2 separate regions of the Homo sapiens genome follow, and region 1 is linked to region 2. Evidence: fine-mapped QTL for protein levels in blood plasma. A gene starts in region 2. The other region holds a variant in brackets. All regions are shown on one strand. Distances are between the middles of the regions.

Region 1 (2,908 bases), 72 kb after region 2:
CTCATAGCCACATTGGACACAGATCATCATTCCCCCTCTTTTCGAATACTCTTCTCTTTTGGATTCATTGGTTCTACTTCTTAGGTAGATTCTTCTGCTCCACCTGGTGTTAACCAGGGTGGCTTAGCCAGTGGTATTCAGTTGGTGGCCAGGCTGTGGTGGCTGGGCTTGTCTAATAGCCCACTTCATTCATTTCTGCTTCCTTGGTGCCGATGGTTAAGAGGTTGGCTTCAGCTGACCACTTTCCCTCTCCATATGTTCATGGCCTTTCATGTGAATGCTCCAGTGGAGTGGTCAGGTTTTTTACATAGTAGCTCAAGGCTTAAGAGCAAGTGTTCAGAAGGAGCAGAGAGAGAGGGCAGTAGTTACAATGTGAGGCCAAAGAAGCTTCCCCCCAGAAAGCTAAAGGTGATAAGTAAAGCATGTTGGTATTGGCTGGCAATATTCCACAAGAGATGAAAGGACAGATATTGCAGAAGAGAGAAGGTATAACTGGGACCAAAAGCCTTGAGAAGGAAAGAGACATGGAGCAAATCATTCACAGTAACAGCAGACAGCAGAGAAGAGAGACATGGTTGTACAGAGGCACCTCCTTTGGGTCTTTACTCAAATGCCCCATTATCAGTGAGAACTTCTCTGACTGCTATTCTTCAGCAGAGGGTATTCCTTATCCCCTTTCTTGCTTTATGTGTTTTCTCCATAACATATGTGCATATCCATAACACACACATGCATCACCTAGAGCATTATATATGCCACAGTGACATGTTTTGCTGATTTCTCAATTGACTCCCCCCATTGGAATGAACGTAAGCTTGAGGAAGACGTTTTGTCCTGTTCTGTAGCATCTAGAACAGCGCCTGGCACATAGTAGGTACTCAATAAATGCCAGCTGCATGAGGAAATGAATGAGCTGTGTGGGGGATGTACTTGAGTGAACTCTAAAGTCAGAGTGGTGTTGAGAGAAAAATGCTTGAAATCCAGATGTTGGAAGGTGACACAGAGTAGTAGCCTGGTGAGAACAGTTAGATCTTAGGGGTTCCTACTACAGCCCTCCCTTCCGCACCTTTTTGGCTGTCACCATGATCAAGCTACTGAATCTCTCTGAGACGCAAGGACCGGGATGGCACAAAGTGAGTGCTCACCAAAGCTTGACTGTCCTTTCCCATGGCAATTTACTTCAGCTTGTTTGATTTCCCCTCCCCGACTGGACTAGGCACCTATTCTCTGTCTTCTCTCTTTACAGTTGGAAGGAGCAAAATGGGACTTTTGGCTGAAAGTGCTGAGCTCCTGCGGTGGGGGCTGACCGCAAGCCACGCCTTCTGTGCACCTGGTCGGCCCAGCTAGCTGCCGACCCGGCGGGGAGGGG[C/T]GGGGCGGGCCAATCGGCGCTGCCCCAGCAGGGCTGCGGCTGCAGGCAGGCAGAGCCTCCTAGCCCGTCGGTGTCTGCGCCCATCGATCCCTTTGTCTATCCCCGACCATGGCGAAGCTGATTGCGCTCACCCTCTTGGGGATGGGACTGGCACTCTTCAGGAACCACCAGTCTTCTTACCAGTAAGTTGGGTTGTGGTGAGGGCTGCAGCCTTCGTCCTCCTCACTCCCTGCCAGCTCCACGAGCCCCCAGAAAGTTGGGTCCAGGCTGTTAACAGAACATTTACAAGCAGGTGCTAGATGCACACTCTGCGGGGGTTTCATAAATGTTTGTCCAGCCGTCATGTGTCACTTGAAAACAAACTCTTGCTCATGGCCTGAGACATGGGATAAGGAGGCAATTGCCAGGGGTGTGAGTGCCCAGGTTGTCAGCATACACGAATTAATTTTTCATGAAGATTTGTGTGCCCTGGCTACAGATTCACTTCTCAACCTGGAAAGAAACAAACTAACCTGGCTGGGGGTTCTCCTGATATTTTGTGTATTAGAGAAAGGAGCCCCTGTCGCTTCTGCGCCTTGACTGCCTGGCCATGGCAAACCTTCCAGGCTTGAAGATTCTCAAATTGAGGCTACTGAGGGCCACAGCAAAACTGCGTGTGGACCCGAGCAGGTGGAGCTAACGTGTGCTGTGATGGTTCGCTTCAGTGGGGGCAGGCGGGGAAGAGGGAACCCTGGAGCCAGCATCTGATGTCCTGGGGTTTAGCTCTGCCCCATGAGTATGCGATTTGGGCAAATCACTTTACATCTCTAACCTTAGCTGCTTCAGTAAACTGGAAATAGTAATACACACTGCCTGCGACAGAGTAGCTATTCAATAAATGTTAGTTCCCTGCTTCCCTTTAAAGTATTTAATAAAGGGTTAAGTGCTATACAAGGGGGGTGGGGATATTTTAAGAATGTATCAAAAGTTTCATAACTTTTAACAGGAGTTCAAAGTCTACAGATCATCCTAGTCTCTAAGGCTTAGTCAACAATGCCTTATTTACTTTAAAGTAAAACCTAATAAAAATTAAATATAAAAAAATTATATGAGCTTATGGACTAATTAGAAGCTTACATTCAGAATGGGTTTTTACTATTTATTGTGGATGTTTTTCTAATTTTTTTAAGTTACAGAGTGCAGAAAAAAAGTAAGAAGCAGTTGGTATTCTTGGCTTTTAAATCATGTAAAAATTACAGTTTGTGAGTTTTTATTAATCACAGTGCTGGTGGCTGCCAAAGGAGATTATAGGTATAGATAAAAATATATAGATAAAGGATGGGTTGCTGAGCCTCCTGGAGTGACCCAGACAGAGGAAGGAAGGGAAATTTTACCCACTGTTGGAAACCCCTAAAACCTAGCTACTCAACTGGGTCTGGGGACCAGATGCCTGAGCATCACCTAGGGGCTCCCTGTACAGGCAGAATCTCAAGCCCTACCCCACACTATTGAATCAGAACCAGCGTCATGGAACAAACTCCCTGGGGGATTAGAGATCAT
Region 2 (2,908 bases):
TGGAGTCCTTCCCACAGGAGCCTACAATCTCAAGCAAAGTTCAGAATTAATTAGTGGTTAATCTTTACTGACTTCATAAAACGTATCAAGCACAGTGCAGAGCACTTGACACTCATTATCACATTTAATTTTAAGCTACCTATGAGGTGGACGTTCTTTTACAGAAGAGGAATCTGTAGCTCAATAAAGCTGAGTACTTTATCTAGGCTGGATCCAAACCCAGGCAGCCTGACTCCCAAACCCTGCATGCATGTCTACATCACACCCCAGGCCCCTCAGCTCTGTGAGCCCTCCTGACTTCGATTCCTCCTCTGCTTGCACTCTTTTAACATTAGTCATCTTAACAAGAACTCTAATCTATACAATTCAAGACGTTACACTGTCCTTTTAATACAACCCTTCTTCCATAGATTTTCTAGAGGCAGCATGGTAGAGGCAGCTCAGTTAAGGGCCCAGATTTTGGAGTCTGCTGCTTGACAGCTGCCTGACCTACAGCAAGCCACATAAGCAATCTGTGCTGCAGGTCTCACCTGTAAAATTGGGGTAAGGCTACCCACACTCCAGAGATTGTGTTGATAATTAAATGCGTTAACATAGGTGTCAGCACAGGCAAAGCACACAGTCAGTACTGCATAAGCGGTGGGCTTCATTATTCATCCTGTAATTACGTATTCATACTAGAATCATGTATCCCATAGGTCAGGGACCACCTTTTCTTTCCTTAATACCCCCAGGATTGGCAAATCTTGCTCTCTCAACAAATAGTTTACTCGGTGGAACCTAACAGAACTAATATTTCTTTCTGTCCGTAAATAAAAATAGATCATGCTTGAATGTGCTACTTTGCCCGAACTCCCCAAGTCTTCCCGCATCTTCAGTTCCTCCCCCTCCAACCTGGTGTTCATCAGGAGAGGGGAAAGAGCATTTCTTGCCTGGCAGGAACTCAAGACCTAGAAGAAAGAGGGCCTACCCTGCCAAGGAAATGACCTTCCCCTTCCTCGCCTCTGCTCCTCTTCCCGTTTCCTGTCTTTTCCTTCTTTTCTCCTGGTGTTTCCTTCTCCCGTTAACTATGGGGACAGACGCAGCTATTCACAAGTCCGTCTGGGCAGCACACTCCGAGGTAAGGCACGAAGGTCAGGAGACAGGTTCCCGTGCCCCAAATCCTGGAGAAGATGAGTTAAAGCTCTTCGCTTCGATTGCCTTCGCCCTTCCCGCGTCTCGGGAGCAATTCAGTGTCGCCTCACGTCTGGCCTTGCAGAAGTCCGGAGTTCCGGCTCTGAACTGGAGCTCCCCGCCATTCCCGGGCCCTCCGGTTTCTCCCTCAGGCCATCTGAGGAATTGAGGTAGGATTTCGCGGGTGTTAGGAGCAAACTCCCACCACAACTCGGTCCCGGGCTCCCTCTCCGTTGAGCCTTGACCTCTGCCCAAAAAACAAGGAATCGTGGGCGTGAAGGCGGCCTTGAACCCGGGCGGCGGGGCTCGGCGGGACTCGTCAGCGCCCTGCTGCGGCACCCGGGCCGCTCAGGTAAGTAGGAGGCGTGTGCGGGCGGGGCCGAGCGGGCCCCAATCCGTACGCGAGGCAGGAACCGCCCGCCGCGCCCCCGAGAGCTCTCGGCGCCGCGCAGTCGCCGCTGGGCACCCCGAGACCATGGGGAAGCTCGTGGCGCTGGTCCTGCTGGGGGTCGGCCTGTCCTTAGTCGGGGAGATGTTCCTGGCGTTTAGGTGAGTGGCATCTTGACAGGGCGTCTTCGACTCTCTTTCTCTCCTCTTCCAAGTGAGGTCAGGGGCTGCCTGGCGCCCCCTTCCTAGCGGGTAGGAAAGAGCAGCTTTGGAACCTCACTCCTCCATCTCACCCAGCAAACCGCCCCTTGAGACTCGCTTATGGGGAAAGTGAGCTACTTGCGTTTCCAAAGACTGCCGAGCCGAATTAGTCCCATTTATTTTTTGAAGGTTATGATCCCCCACTTTGCTTTCTGAAGGTCATGACCCCCTTTTACTTTCTGAACGTGATGACCCCTTTCCCAGCTCGCCCTCAACATTCTGCTTGGGAAAAAAGGACGTCCATTGGAAACGCCGGACTTGGGAGAGAGGATCAGGCTACCAGTTGGATGTTTACGGCTGACTGAGACATTGCCCAGGTCTGGCTAACCATGCAGAAGTACTGGGTTATGGAACCTATCCTAGATTTAAAGAGCTGGCCAGACAGCAGGGCAAACCAGCTGAAACCTGCAGGCGGTAACTGGCATTTTGTAGGCATTTGACCTTTTGAAGTGGAAGATACAATGGTGATAGCCAGCCTAGAAATGTCTCAGGAAAAGTCAATACTGGGCTAGAAAGAAGAACCTTTAAGTGATAATACACATTCATGAGTGGATCGAAAGCCTCTGCTTGCTTTCAGTTGTCTTTGAGTGTTTATGTATTTCTCTTAGTTGAAGCTGGTCTTCTTAGAGGATCACGTCTAGAATCTGTTGAGGTGCCTGGTGCCTATTAGTAATACTTCCAGTTTGAGAGTTTTATTGTTACATTTGCTCCCAGTGCAACCACATGGAGAATCATAAAATAATAGTAATAATAATAAAGTAGATCTAAGGGTATTTTTTTAAATAAATGACTGTAAGATAAGTATTGAGTCTTTCTGAATATACTTTAATAAAAATTTTAAATTATCCCTGATATTAGAAGAATGTGGAAACATTCCTTTTCACTCTGGAAACAAGAAAATTGTGTTGAAAAATAAATCGGCCAATTGTTTAAATTGTGGTTGGTTTAATGAATTTACATACTTGCGGAGTAAGTCAGCATAAAATTTAAAAATTAAAGCAAAAGTGATAGAGTTTGACTATTAGGAGACCCTGTTGAATTTTGGGAAAGCAGTTTGGAAGGAAAAGTTCAAAGGGCAAGACTGTAG

Direction of the effects. Alleles are on the strand shown, and positions count from the first base shown. The strength of an association depends on the size of the effect and on how common the allele is.
In carriers of allele T in region 1, the plasma level of the protein whose gene starts at base 1,624 in region 2 tends to be higher than with C alone (moderate association).

Evidence for each region. PIP is the posterior inclusion probability: the model's chance that the variant is causal. Protein levels are from antibody-based Olink assays in UK Biobank. Linkage for the fine-mapping came from a reference panel and not from the study's own genotypes, which makes the PIPs less certain.
Region 1: its variant is fine-mapped to the plasma level of the PON3 protein (UK Biobank, PIP above 0.99).

The regions. Positions count from the first base shown.
Region 1 is chr7:95,323,045-95,325,952 of GRCh38, reverse strand. PON1 (paraoxonase 1) reads left to right here and starts at 1,421. Exons shown (of 9, transcript NM_000446.7): 1 at 1,421-1,551. The coding sequence starts at 1,478. RefSeq lists a silencer at 1,298-1,477. The variant C/T (reference allele first, on the strand shown) is at 1,370.
Region 2 is chr7:95,395,091-95,397,998 of GRCh38, reverse strand. PON3 (paraoxonase 3) reads left to right here and starts at 1,624. Exons shown (of 9, transcript NM_000940.3): 1 at 1,624-1,722. The coding sequence starts at 1,649. It overlaps LOC107986822 (a long non-coding RNA gene), which reads right to left and starts at 1,527. Exons shown (of 2, transcript XR_007060439.1): 1 at 971-1,527.